Homo sapiens: one gene and its partners. The protein of the gene in region 2 purifies or fractionates together with the protein of the main gene of each other region. This does not show direct contact. Each region holds a gene or a part of one and is shown on either strand. Other genes may lie near its edges.

Region 1 (2,314 bases), on a different chromosome or scaffold from region 2:
CTCTCCTCATGCATCCACCCCCTTCCTCCCCAGGAATAGCCAGGTCTGGCTGGGTCGGCACAACCTGTTTGAGCCTGAAGACACAGGCCAGAGGGTCCCTGTCAGCCACAGCTTCCCACACCCGCTCTACAATATGAGCCTTCTGAAGCATCAAAGCCTTAGACCAGATGAAGACTCCAGCCATGACCTCATGCTGCTCCGCCTGTCAGAGCCTGCCAAGATCACAGATGTTGTGAAGGTCCTGGGCCTGCCCACCCAGGAGCCAGCACTGGGGACCACCTGCTACGCCTCAGGCTGGGGCAGCATCGAACCAGAGGAGTGTACGCCTGGGCCAGATGGTGTAGCTGGGAGCCCAGATGCCTGGGTCTGAGGGAAGTGGGGCCAAAGAACCAGGTGGGGTCCGGCCACAGCCCAGTTTTTCTCTGACCCATAGTCTTGCGCCCCAGGAGTCTTCAGTGTGTGAGCCTCCATCTCCTGTCCAATGACATGTGTGCTAGAGCTTACTCTGAGAAGGTGACAGAGTTCATGTTGTGTGCTGGGCTCTGGACAGGTGGTAAAGACACTTGTGGGGTGAGTCATCCCTACTCCCAACATCTGGAGGGGAAAGGTGAGTGAAGACCCTAATTCTGGGCTGCAATCTGAAAGCTAACCAGACATCTGCCTCCCCTGCTCCCCAGCTATAGCCACGCCCCCTCCCCATGCCTCATCTGCCGCCCTCCTTCCCCCTTCCCTGACTCCCTCAACACAAGAGGTGATTCTCACAGCATAATTCACCCATTCCTGTGTTGAGCACATGCTTACTGGGCACCTGCTACGTGACCAGCATTGCCGTAGACCCTGGGAAGCAGCAGTGAACAGGTAGAGAGCAGCCTCTCCCTCCTGCAGCCCCCATGCTGGTGAGGGGCACTGGCAGGAACAGTGGACCCAACATGGAAATGCTGGAGGGTGTCAGGAAGTGATCGGGCTCTGGGGCAGGGAGGAGGGGTGGGGAGTGTCACTGGGAGGGGACATCCTGCAGAAGGTAGGAGTGAGCAAACACCCGCTGCAGGGGAGGGGAGAGCCCTGCGGCACCTGGGGGAGCAGAGGGAGCAGCACCTGCCCAGGCCTGGGAGGAGGGGCCGGGAGGGCGTGAGGAGGAGCGAGGGGGCTGCATGGCTGGAGTGAGGGATCAGGGGCAGGGCGCGAGATGGCCTCACACAGGGAAGAGAGGGCCCCTCCTGCAGGGCCTCACCTGGGCCACAGGAGGACACTGCTTTTCCTCTGAGGAGTCAGGAGCTGTGGATGGTGCTGGACAGAAGAAGGACAGGGCCTGGCTCAGGTGTCCAGAGGCTGTCGCTGGCTTCCCTTTGGGATCAGACTGCAGGGAGGGAGGGCGGCAGGGTTGTGGGGGGAGTGACGATGAGGATGACCTGGGGGTGGCTCCAGGCCTTGCCCCTGCCTGGGCCCTCACCCAGCCTCCCTCACAGTCTCCTGGCCCTCAGTCTCTCCCCTCCACTCCATCCTCCATCTGGCCTCAGTGGGTCATTCTGATCACTGAACTGACCATACCCAGCCCTGCCCACGGCCCTCCATGGCTCCCCAATGCCCTGGAGAGGGGACATCTAGTCAGAGAGTAGTCCTGAAGAGGTGGCCTCTGCGATGTGCCTGTGGGGGCAGCATCCTGCAGATGGTCCCGGCCCTCATCCTGCTGACCTGTCTGCAGGGACTGTCCTCCTGGACCTTGCCCCTTGTGCAGGAGCTGGACCCTGAAGTCCCCTCCCCATAGGCCAAGACTGGAGCCTTGTTCCCTCTGTTGGACTCCCTGCCCATATTCTTGTGGGAGTGGGTTCTGGAGACATTTCTGTCTGTTCCTGAGAGCTGGGAATTGCTCTCAGTCATCTGCCTGCGCGGTTCTGAGAGATGGAGTTGCCTAGGCAGTTATTGGGGCCAATCTTTCTCACTGTGTCTCTCCTCCTTTACCCTTAGGGTGATTCTGGGGGTCCACTTGTCTGTAATGGTGTGCTTCAAGGTATCACATCATGGGGCCCTGAGCCATGTGCCCTGCCTGAAAAGCCTGCTGTGTACACCAAGGTGGTGCATTACCGGAAGTGGATCAAGGACACCATCGCAGCCAACCCCTGAGTGCCCCTGTCCCACCCCTACCTCTAGTAAATTTAAGTCCACCTCACGTTCTGGCATCACTTGGCCTTTCTGGATGCTGGACACCTGAAGCTTGGAACTCACCTGGCCGAAGCTCGAGCCTCCTGAGTCCTACTGACCTGTGCTTTCTGGTGTGGAGTCCAGGGCTGCTAGGAAAAGGAATGGGCAGACACAG
Region 2 (3,500 bases):
GCTTTATGAATGACATAACATATGGTACTACTAAGAACTTACTATGTAAGTATGTTGCATTACATAATTGGCCATGGGCAACTCTGAGTAAATAGATACCAGAGCTCCTCATCAGATACTTACAGATCTTGACTCTGTTTCATTCGGTGAAAGTCCTTCAGGATACCCATCATGTCTGCAAAGCTGCTGGCCTTGGACAAAGAGACGCAGTCATCCTCTTCAGACGAACTGCAGGCAGCTTTGTGTTCTGGTTTGCAACATTCAGGGCTGGCAGAACAAAGCAGGGGGACTGATGGAAGCTCAGGGACCTCCACCTCTGTCTCCTCGGTGATGTCACTAATGACAAAGGAAGTTGTAGAGTGGAATGAGGATCCAAAACAAGGTAAGGGAGAAGAGACATTTGAACTTCCTGGAGATAAGAAATCTGGCGTTAATGAAGCCGAAGCTGAAAGAGAAAACAATAGGCATGGGTGGACATTGGGGCTAGAACACAGTAGCAATATCTTCTCCCCACAGCCCTGCCTACTGAACATTCATTTCCTGGGCTGACACCATGACAATCTGGGAGAGCCAGGATGGTATCTGTAGCCAGTGGAGGGTCATTCCACTATGCTTCTCACTCGGGGGCTCAGAAAGCTGTAGAAGCACTGGGCTTTTCCAGTGTTCCAGGAAGGCAGGAAAACCCAGCCCCATAATGGCCTTGGCATTTAAAAGCTCCCATTCCACAATAGGCTGTGGAGTGACAGCCCTGTCATAGGCCAAAGCAGCAGAGATAAGAGCTAAGGCCTGAATTTGTCCTTTTCTCTAACTAGACTAGTGCTTTTGACTATGCTCCTTTGAAATCTTGCTATCTGTGAACTAGAAGACATGTTCTGAGCAAAACCAGAATGGTAACAGACCTCCCAACCTCCCCAAATTTCAGTGGAGAGAATTTCCTCAGTTTTTACATTTCTAAAAATACTTTAAAAACACTAAATACACTAAAAACTATGTTTCTAAAAAAGATGTTACTTCTGCTTGTCTCTTGGATGACAAAAAAGTAGCCAAGAAATAACAAAGTTTCAGTACAATTCTTCATAAAACTTCCATGTGAAGAAATTAAATACATGAAGATTTCAAAGAACACCATGATTTTCATGTGTCCTACCAAATGATAAATTTCAGAGCTATGACTCTGAGTCAATGCAGAGTGAAAAAATGAGGATGGGAGGAATATGAAGATAAGCCCTGAGCATCTTGGGAGCGATCCACCTGTTGGCTGTCCATGCCTCTGGTTAAGGCAGGCTTCCCATCCATTTCCAGTGGTTCTGCCTTAACTGTAGACAGAAAGCTGGAGGGGTGGGTTACAGGGCTTGTTTGCATAATAGACCACTGTTTTTTTTTTTTCTTTTTTTGAGACGGAGTCTCACTCTGTCGCCCATGCTGGAGTGCAGTGGTGCAACTTCAGCTCATTGCAACCTCCACCTCTGCCTCCACCTCCACCTTCCAGGTTCAAGGCACATGCTGCGATGCCCAGCTAATTTTTGTATTTTTTATAGAGACAGGGTTTCACCATGTTGGCCAGGCTGGTCTCGAACTCCTGACCTCAGGTGATCCACCCACCTCAGCCTTCCAAAGTGTTGGGATTACAGGCGTAAGCCACAGTGCCCGACCACTGTATTTTAAGGCCAAGATCTCCAACTTTATGAAATTCTCCTTCCACCAAAAAAGTCCACCAATTTGAGATAAGAAAACATAACATAATGTCATGAAACTCCCCACTTTGAAGGGTGGGGCATGGGGACAATGTCACTAGCAGTATAAGAACTGAAGTGGTAAAGCCACTTGTGATTCCTGGTAGAAACAACAAGGCAAGGGAAGATAGGTGCTTAAAAAGGGTAAGTCTCAGTGGTGGTGGGGGGAATGTTTACTTCTTGTATTGAAAAGGAAAGCAGGGCGCGGTGGCTCATGGTTGTAATCCTAGCATTTTGGGAGGCTGAGGCAAGTGGATTGCTTGAGCTCAGGAGTTTGAGACCAGCCTGGGCAATGGCGAAACCCTATCTCTACTAAAAATACAAAAAATTAGCTGGGCATGGTGGCATGCGCCTATAATCCCAGCTACTCGGGAGGCAGAGGCACGAGAACTGCTTGAACCCAGGAGGTGGAGGTTGCAGTGAGCCAAGATCGTGCCACCGCACTCCAACCTGGGTGACAGAATGAGACTCTTGTTTCAACCGCGGGCACAGTGGCTCATGCCTATAATCTTAGCACTTTGGAAGGCCGAGCTGGGTGGATTGCTTGAGGCCAGGAGTTTGAGACCAGCCTGATTAATGTGGCAAAACCCCGTCTCTACTAAAAATAAAAAAATTAGCCAGGTGTGGTGGTGCACACCCGTAATTCCAGCTACTCAGGAGGCTGAGGCACGAGAATCGCTTGAGCCTGGGAGGCAGAGGTTGCAGTGAGCCAAGATTGCGCCACTGCACTCCAGCCTGGGCAACAGAGCAAGAACCAGGACCCTGTCTCCAAAAAAAGGAAAACTGGCTGGGCTCGGTGGCTCACACCTATAATCCCAGCACTTTGAGAGGCTGAGGTGGGTGGGTCATCTGAGGTCAGGAATACAAGACCAGCCTGGCCAACATGGTGGAACTCTGTCTCTACTAAAAATATAAAAATTAGCCAGGCCTGGTGGCACACCCCTGTAGTCCCAGCTACTCAGGAGGCTGAGGCAGGAGAATCGCTTGCACCTGGGAGGCAGAGTGCAGTGAACTAAGATCGTGCCACTGCACTTCCAGCCTGGGCGACAGAGCAAGACTCACTCAGAGGAGAAAAAAAAAAAGCTACTGTGGGCTTATGTAAGATGTGATCTTAAAGACACTTAGAAGAGGGTATCAGTTTGGGGGCTAAGGGAGGGACTCTGCCTGGGGTCACAGGTTAATATTTTGTTCTTAACCAAACCATTCAGCCCAAAATGGCTGGTAGAAACCATCTAAGAGGCACTACTGGCTAGCCAGGCTTCAGGACAACCCCAGGGCCCGGAACCTAAGTACCTGCAAACCAAGGATTACCACTTTCTTTACCCCTATCCTGCCCAAGAGCCAGGGGAAAGGAACAGCCTGTTACGTTCTGGCCCTGGCACAGGGGCTCCTACCTGCATCAGCTGCCACTATCTTTGCAATCTGGCTGCGCAAGTGGCTCAGCTCGTCCTGCAGCTCAGTAGTGCGGCTTAGGGCTGGCAGAGCTGGCTTCTTCAGGGCCAGAAGCCTCTCCTCGGACCCACGCAGGTTGGGAACAGAGGCATTGCGCTGCATGACAATCAGAGGGCTGGGTTTCCAGGTGTGCCTCAGGGGGCGCGTATCACTCCTGGACCAGGGAAAACCAAGTAGATCAGTTAGAGACAGCAGGCCACTGTGCTCCTAAGGTTCCTTCCCCCACTTCTGTGAGAGTAGTATAGTAAGGTTCTGCTCCTCTCTGAGCCCACAGTTCTCATTCCTCTCTCCTTGCTGCCTGCCACCTCTTCTGGG
Region 3 (4,234 bases), on a different chromosome or scaffold from region 2:
GTAGAAGGAAACATGCTTAAGCATTAATAATGATCTCCGGTGGTAGAATTTTTGGTAAGTTTAATTTTATCATTTACATGTTCCTACTTAACTATACATATATATTTATATATATTCATATACATAAATATACAAACATATGTATATATACACATTTTTGTTTATGGACAGCCTATGACTGTGAGCCAAGGGACATCAGAGACATGGCTCTCTGGAAACTGAGAGAATACTTAGTGGACAGTTTTTTGTTTGTTTGTTTGTTTGTTTTTGAGATGGAGTCTCGCTCTGTCACCCAGGCTGGAGTGCAGTGGCGCGATCTCAGCTCACTGCAAGCTCCACCTGGGTTGACGCCATTCTCCTGCCTCCGCCTCCCAAGTAGCTGGAACTACAGGAGCCCGCCACCACGCCCGGCTAATTTTTTGTATTTTTAGTAGAGATGGGGTTTCACCATGTTAACCAGGATGGTCTCGATCTCCTGACCTCGTGATCCACCCGTCTTGGCCTCCCAAAGTGCTAGGATTACAGGCATGAGCCACCGCGCCCGGCCTTAGTGAACAATTATTATCAGGATGATCAGCATCCATTTTTCCATCACCTGGCAACAACAACTAGCATTTCTCAAGGGAAATCCCCTCCTCATTCATAAGCACCATAGATGGAGTGGAACAGTCCCCACCTCAGCTTAAGGAGGGCTAAATAACCAAAGCATAAAGCAATCAGTCCACTACACTTCAGTGGACCCAATGATGACTCATTTTGGTTCAATAAATATCAAGTCCAGAACTTTTGTGCAGAACTGTGGAATAAAAAAAGTTATCTTTGTCACAGAATATTTATATTTAAAGAGGGGATTCTAAATATCCCAAAAATATGAATCTGAGATAGTGGTAAGATAGGAATGGGTTGCCATTTGCAGTATTTGTTGGGTGTGTGCAACTCTGCATACTGCTAAGGCAAGTCCAGCCTCCGTCTCACACCAACAGGCAGATTTCCCCACCACGGCCCTTACCATCTTGTGCTCTAACCCCAGATTTTCAGTCTACTCTTGCTAACCATCAATTCTTCAAGGGCAAGAGCCATGTCTCTCATATCCCTGGATCTGGCTTGCTAAATAATTATTCATGATTTTATCTGAGTAGAAAAAGAGCCAAGAACTGAGAAAAGGAGACATTCTTGGTTCTCAGTCACTGAGGAGCTTCTGCAGTACCAGCCTTTCTGCTAGCTGCAGCCACAGCTTCAACAGCTCCACCTCCTTGTTCTTTATTCTTGCTTTCACCTTGTTACTCAGCAGCAGGGGTGTAAATGTGACAGTGCCATGTCAACTTAAACCAAACCAGATAATTTTAATAAACCACCTTCTATAATGACACCCATCAAAACCAGAAGGGGACAAGTCTAGGAGGTCTCTGAGTTTACTGTACCCATCCCTCCTTCATCTCCCTCCAGCATTTGTTTCTGGAAGGAGTCAACACCAACAGCTCTGACCTGGGCAGCCTTCCTGAGAAAATGCAGCCATTCCTCCTCCTGTTGGCCTTTCTTCTGACCCCTGGGGCTGGGACAGGTAAGTGACTATCCCTATTCCAGAGGCCTGAACCCATCTTATAAGATACCCTGTACCCATGAGCACTGGTCAGGAATTTTCCTCAATCTGAGCCCACCTCCCATTCCACACCCAGACTTATAAATCTGAGGCTAGATAGACACTCAGCAAAGATCGAAAAATGAAGGGTGTTCCCTAAAAGGTTTAATGGGTGTTAGCCTCTCCCTAGACCTCTCCTTTATGACCTGGAGTGTGGATTGTTCTTAGAAAGGCATTTGGTAGGGAATGTGAAGCTAAAAAAGATAAGTAATTATTACTCTACACTCCAACCCAGGAAAGAGGAGCTCAGACACCAAGTTGCAGTCATAGGAGTTGTTACTGGACTCAGCTTAAGAACCACTTATTCAGTGCCCCCACCCAGTCACCCCTGCCAGGAGGGAAGCCCATGGTGCAACTGATCTCAGAGATGGCAAGATGACTGTGTCCATAGCTCTCCCATTACCTTGGCTCCACCTGGGCTTTGCGATTCATTTTTAGTTGATTTCTCCACTTCCTTCTGCCTTTGCAGGCCCTCAGCTACTCCACTGACCTGGTGATAACCCCCTCTAACATCCCTGAGGTCCTGAATCCCACCAGCACTACCCCCACTAAACCTCAGCCAAAGGCTAATTGGAGGCTATTCATTTATGCACCAAACAACACTTACTGAGAACCTAGAATGTGTTCAGCCCTGGCACATGAGAATTTTAGAAAATCCAACTCCAGAAGCTCATGGGTAGATCATTAGAAAATGGCACCAATCAGGAGGACAGCAGAGGCTCAGAGGAATCAGAGAGACTCACTAAAAAGGAGGAGCCTGGGAAGTCCTGTCCAGGATCCTCTGGGGCTCTACCACTGTGAAAATAGATCTTTCTTCCTCCATGTGTGTTTCTGCAGTAGGATGCAGAAGTCAAGCACTGTCCATTCTTTCTGAGAGAAGGTTCTGAGACTTAAAGTTCAGAAAAGCTTGCTCTGCCTGCAAGGAGTACTGCCTGCAGAGCTCAGGAGGACCCCTCCCTCACTGTCTGCAGCACACAAAACACTTCACCCTCAATCACTGTCGTCCTAAGCCTTCTCTCCTGACTGCAGCCATCCCCAGCTACTTTATCTTCCAGTCTTTCCTTTCAGAGGAGATCATCGGGGGCCATGAGGCCAAGCCCCACTCCCGCCCCTACATGGCCTTTGTTCAGTTTCTGCAAGAGAAGAGTCGGAAGAGGTGTGGCGGCATCCTAGTGAGAAAGGACTTTGTGCTGACAGCTGCTCACTGCCAGGGAAGGTAAGGAGCAGCACCAGCTCACCTCCTGAGTTCCCCCTACAGGGACCCTTGTTTTCTCCTGGGGACTGCAGCCCAGGGGAGCTTCCAGAGTTCCTGGTAACACAAGCCCATGAAAGCTCATCGGAGCAGCCACCTGGGAATAGGACTAAGATGATGAAAGGCTGAGAAATAGGACAGGGTCAGAGGGTCAGAGGGTCAGAGGTCAGAGCAAGTGGCATGGTTTCACACACTGGCCCAATAAGGCAGTAGTAAAGGTTGAATCCATGCATTAAGGATCAAAATGCAAACTCGAGCAATTTCATGATATTTCCTGAAGGCAAGAGAGAGCCCCCAGAAGCCCTACTCTTCATGTCTTTGTGAAGTAGAGGGCACAGTCACTCAGCCCTGGAGCCCTCCTGTCCCTTCAACTTCCCCTCAGCTGCAGCCCTACCCTGCCACAGCTGTCATCTGCTCTTCACTGCTCCTGGGCTCTATCCCCTGTGACTCCACCCCCATCCTCACTCTGCTCTCTGTGCAGCTCCATAAATGTCACCTTGGGGGCCCACAATATCAAGGAACAGGAGCGGACCCAGCAGTTTATCCCTGTGAAAAGACCCATCCCCCATCCAGCCTATAATCCTAAGAACTTCTCCAACGACATCATGCTACTGCAGGTGAGGCACACTCCTGCCACTCTTGCTCTTCTTGGTCCAGTTGGTTCCACTCCCACTGGGATGCCGGCCCTTTCCTCCTTTCCATCCTGACCTCTTGGTCAGTTCCTGTGCCTTAGAGGAGAGGGAAGATTGTGCAGCCCCATCACTGTGTCGGGGCCCAGAAGGCCATTGCCTGACCTGGACTTTCTTGCTTCTTCCCCACCAGCTGGAGAGAAAGGCCAAGTGGACCACAGCTGTGCGGCCTCTCAGGCTACCTAGCAGCAAGGCCCAGGTGAAGCCAGGGCAGCTGTGCAGTGTGGCTGGCTGGGGTTATGTCTCAATGAGCACTTTAGCAACCACACTGCAGGAAGTGTTGCTGACAGTGCAGAAGGACTGCCAGTGTGAACGTCTCTTCCATGGCAATTACAGCAGAGCCACTGAGATTTGTGTGGGGGATCCAAAGAAGACACAGACCGGTTTCAAGGTTGGGTTTCCAGCCTCTACCCAGAAAGACCACAGGGAGAGAGGAACTTGAGGGAGTTCTGGGGTATGACAGTGGCCAGATCTTTATGCTCTCAGCCCAGAGCTTGGGCAGCCTGTGTCCCCCTGGAATCTAGTCTTTAGTCCACTCCTTGGGTGGACTGGGGTGGCTGGAGGGGAAGGATCTGTCATCCGACAGTCACTTATCACCAAAGTGTCCGTGAGAATTGCAGAGAAAGGCTTGGTCTGGGGAGAGCCAGAAAGCAC
Region 4 (3,967 bases), on a different chromosome or scaffold from region 2:
GACTAATATCATTTCCTCTATCGTTCTAATTTAAAACTACGTTTCAAGTCACCTTTCCCTGAAAATGTTATGTACCCACTTAACATTTTCAGACTGAATAATCAGCATCTTTGCTGTTGTGGTTTTGCTTTTCAAAGGTAATAGTGGGATAGCTCTTCAAGCTGAAACTCCTGGGATAAAGGAATCCTGGGAGCCAGCATGTAGGATGTGTCCATCTTCATGCTCCGTCTTCACCTTGCACTGGCACTCCTCCACCAGCATCACCACCTTGATCACGGAGGAAAGTTCAGTGCAGTTCAGTGGCAAGTGCATCGTGGTGAACTTGGCAGGCAAACAGTGAGAGCAGGAGGTATGGGAGTGCTGCGCGGCTCCAGGAAAATGAACAGACCCGCATTTCCCAAAGCAAAGGTTGTTCTGAACAACTACTTTTTCACAGCCTTCGTGGGTTATAGTCTAAAAAGCAAACACATTTCCATTACGTTATTTTGAATTATTTCTTTAACACACATAATGCAGAAGCTATGGACTGTAAATCTGAGGATAATTTAAAAATTTCAAAGCTTTCCAATTTTGGATACAATTTGCAATATGCAAGTGATGGTATCTATAAGGGCACAGAACCACCTCAATTAAATTTTCTTTATTGAGTAAATTATTAAACAGCCTTTAGGGAATCCCTAAGTTAACATAAAAAATATTTTACTCTACATTATTCGTGCAAAACCTTAAGCAATTTTGTCTAATTGGATGTGAGCGATTGAAAAATTCTAATGGTAATTATCTTACATAAGTAATGTGCCTTACTTTTTTATTCCTCACAGGGCTTTGTGCATAGTAGGCTCCCAATACATATTTGTTACATTGATCGTAGAATAGATCAGAACATTCTAGGTTTAATTCTATCCTATTCTGCAAGACCTGTAGTACATTCAAGTCTATGAAGTTGTATGCAAGCAGAGTTACAATGCATATGCCTGCAAATCATTGTATATTACATCACCTTTACCTCTCATAACTCCAAGCACCTAGCTTTATATGCCTTTCAAAATATGTAAGAGTCAAACATCTTAGTTTTAATTTAATTAGCAATAGAATTCAAAAGAAGAATTTCAAAAGAAATTTGATTGCCTGATTCTTAGGGGTAATTTTCTAATTGCACATGGCCAACAGAGTAGTCATTATTATTTGATAATTGACTTGCCATTGCTACATATCCTTGCCTTTTCAGGCAGAATACTTAACTGCCTTGAACAGTCAATTGCCCTATTCTATTGCTTGCTTAATTGGGTAGCATTACTCGACTATAAAATTTTACTCTACCCTGCATGTTTTTGGTTCAATATCTTCATGTTTAAGGACCTAATGCAAGTTCTCAATTTTAATTTAACATTTGGAATGTAGATATTGCCAGAGGAAGTAGACAGTAGGATGTCCCTTTGTCTTAATAGCATGGAATTGATCATAATAACTACAAATCAGCCAACACAACATGAATCAGGAGAAAGGTACTTCTAAGGGGAGGAGATATGATCTCACATCAAGATTGATTTTTTAAAAAGCTCATATGAGAAAATAAGTGAAAGAAAATCACTTTTTTGCTATCATAATACTAGAAATGATATGACAACTTTTGCCTGAGAACCTCAACGTACTTTGAGGTTGTGGGATAGCTTTAGCAAGCTATTAAAGAAGTCCCTCATAAACCTATAAAGTAATTAAGTATGGACTATGGGGATTAAGACCATCGTAAATGGATATGAGAGTATTTGGGAAGGAGTCCAATGCACCCCACTTTATCAACAAATGGAGTTGACCTGCTCATCCACATATTAATAGAGTGCAGAAAGATAGCTACAGAGGAGTTCTGGTGATTACTCTAAATTCTCAGTTTCCTAACTGAGGGTACAGTCTGACTTATATCTCTGAGTAGATCACCTCCAATGCAAAAATAAATAAATAAAACAGAGCTCTGTGTCTTCAGTGTGAATGAATGATTACTGATATTGACAGTATCATCATATCATTCTTGCAGCATTTCCACAATGCCAAGAAAAAATGGAAAGGCCAGAAGGAAACTTAATCTTTGCCAAATCCTATGATGAATGCCCAAGGACCAAATCTGTAGTTAAGCTAGAGTCAGGCTCCTGACAGCCTTTTCCCCTACTCTCCATCCATCCCAGCTGTCCACTACCACCTGCAAACTCTTACCTGCTCTCCCCCCAGAACACATACCTGGCTGAAGGGCACTGTCCTGCAGGTCTCCCAATGTACTTCATGGCTTTTGATGGGCAAGATGACCCCCTGAGAAGCCGGAGTTTTTCTGAACATGAAGTGGTGCCAGAATTTCTTGGCTTCTTCCCGAAGAGGAGATTTCTCCATTTTCATTCCATCTATCGGCTGGATGAGGGACTGGGTCCCAGGTGGGAAGGGCTCACTATCTGAGTCCCTGGATGGATGCATTTCTCTCTCAGGCTTCTTCCAGAACCTGCCAAATCTGGACAGCATCTTCTCTCTCTGCCTCTGGCCTTCCCCTGCAGGGCTGGTGGCTACAAGGTGTGGCACTGCGACAAACAGATCTGGCTTCTCCTCAGCTTCCTCATGGTTGCCTGTGGGAAGCTCTCTTTGATTCCTTGGCAGGAGTACGGGGGAAAGAGAACTCTGATTCTGGCGGCCATCCTGGTGCCGTGTGGTCTTTCCTAGAGGCAGGAGTACCAGCAGCTGAAATAAGAGGAGATGCATGCTGTCAGGGGCCCAAGCTTCTTTTGTAAATGATGAGGCCCAAAGGAGAGGCTCATTCTCTGCAGGACTGGGAAAAAGGAAATCGTATATATAGATACCTGCCTGGCGGGATGGGAAGGCAGGTGGTCAGTAGCCAGGCAGAATAAACACATTTATTGTTTGCTTGAATTATGTAGTGCTAATGGCCTCCTGCCGTCACTTTGGTTTTGTGTATTTTAAAAGGCCCCAGTGAAAGCCTGGGACCCAGGGGGTAATTAGCTAAGAGTTTAGCTATGTCTGGGGCTTAAAGAGCAGTATTAGCAAAGACAACACATTCTTTGCCTAAATTTCCCATGGCTGTTTTCAGAAGAAGGACTAGAGTCAGCTCACATTTGCTGTGCATCTGCCTTGTGCTGGAATAGAATAGACAAGACATGTTGCTGTAAGAGAAGTTTTTGGATAAAAATTAAAGGCATACATTTAGAAAAAGCCCAGGCCTTTAGGAAGGCTATTCACACACACACACACACACACACACACACACACACACACACACACACGAAGAAGTATATCAAAGTTGTAAGGAGAAGAAAGGAAGAGCTAGAAGGATGTTAATTTTTTTGAGCAAGGGACATATTGTTTCTTACTTACATGCAAATTGGGGTTATTGATTTTTGCACAGTAACTGAGTAAAGGGAATATGTTTTCCTTTCCACACGTAGAAACTCACAATTCCCAAGTTAATCCTCTCACATTAAGAATCAATTAATGGGTGCTAAATTTCACAACTGGTCAGTCATCAGATAAACTCTTCCAATTGTTCACATGTTCCTCAACAGGATACCACGTAATAGACTGACAGCTCATCAGTCTTCAATGAGGATAGGGAAATGTCTCCCTCCAGCCATCCTATTGATTTTTTTTTCCCTTTGAACAAAGAGCCAGACATGAGAACGTGGATTCTAAGAACCAGGTTTGATAACTTTGTGTGTGACGCTGGCTAGTCAGTTTCTTACCTTATTGAATCCACATCATCTCCCCTTGTTTTACACTAATTGATGGCCAGGCTAAATAAAGATTGACACAAATAAGAGTCTTCGGGGATCAAAGGAAAAATTGAAAAATAACTATCATTCAAAACTATCATGAATCAGCCTAGGATACGAAAAAGAAACACGTCCAGAAAACTGAAACCCCAGAATAGAGTCCGATCAGCCTACCACATGATTCAAACAGTATTTCCACTGGG

What was found. Proteins that work in one complex are often made in the same cells at the same time.
Region 1: the proteins of MTFR1L (region 2) and KLK2 purify together in Homo sapiens (co-immunoprecipitation; one large-scale study listed by IntAct). This does not show direct contact.
Region 3: the proteins of MTFR1L (region 2) and GZMH purify together in Homo sapiens (co-immunoprecipitation; one large-scale study listed by IntAct). This does not show direct contact.
Region 4: the proteins of MTFR1L (region 2) and CER1 purify together in Homo sapiens (co-immunoprecipitation; one large-scale study listed by IntAct). This does not show direct contact.

The regions. Positions count from the first base shown.
Region 1 is NC_000019.10:50,876,439-50,878,752, forward strand, and holds part of KLK2 (kallikrein-2 isoform 1 preproprotein), read left to right. Parts: intron 1-33; coding exon 34-320; intron 321-433; coding exon 434-570; coding exon of another isoform or gene 571-607; intron 608-1,965; coding exon 1,966-2,121; 3' UTR 2,122-2,314. UniProt on the Homo sapiens protein: Glandular kallikreins cleave Met-Lys and Arg-Ser bonds in kininogen to release Lys-bradykinin.
Region 2 is NC_000001.11:25,826,454-25,829,953, reverse strand, and holds part of MTFR1L (mitochondrial fission regulator 1-like), read right to left. Parts: intron 3,340-3,500; coding exon 3,128-3,339; intron 446-3,127; coding exon 124-445; intron 1-123. UniProt on the Homo sapiens protein: Mitochondrial protein required for adaptation of miochondrial dynamics to metabolic changes. Regulates mitochondrial morphology at steady state and mediates AMPK-dependent stress-induced mitochondrial fragmentation via the control of OPA1 levels.
Region 3 is NC_000014.9:24,606,886-24,611,119, reverse strand, and holds the start of GZMH (granzyme H isoform 1 preproprotein), read left to right. Parts: upstream 1-1,434; 5' UTR 1,435-1,506; coding exon 1,507-1,561; intron 1,562-2,707; coding exon 2,708-2,855; intron 2,856-3,372; coding exon 3,373-3,508; intron 3,509-3,713; coding exon 3,714-3,971; intron 3,972-4,234. UniProt on the Homo sapiens protein: Cytotoxic chymotrypsin-like serine protease with preference for bulky and aromatic residues at the P1 position and acidic residues at the P3' and P4' sites. Probably necessary for target cell lysis in cell-mediated immune responses.
Region 4 is NC_000009.12:14,719,934-14,723,900, forward strand, and holds the start of CER1 (cerberus precursor), read right to left. Parts: upstream 2,801-3,967; 5' UTR 2,740-2,800; coding exon 2,233-2,739; intron 454-2,232; coding exon 157-453; 3' UTR 1-156. UniProt on the Homo sapiens protein: Cytokine that may play a role in anterior neural induction and somite formation during embryogenesis in part through a BMP-inhibitory mechanism. Can regulate Nodal signaling during gastrulation as well as the formation and patterning of the primitive streak.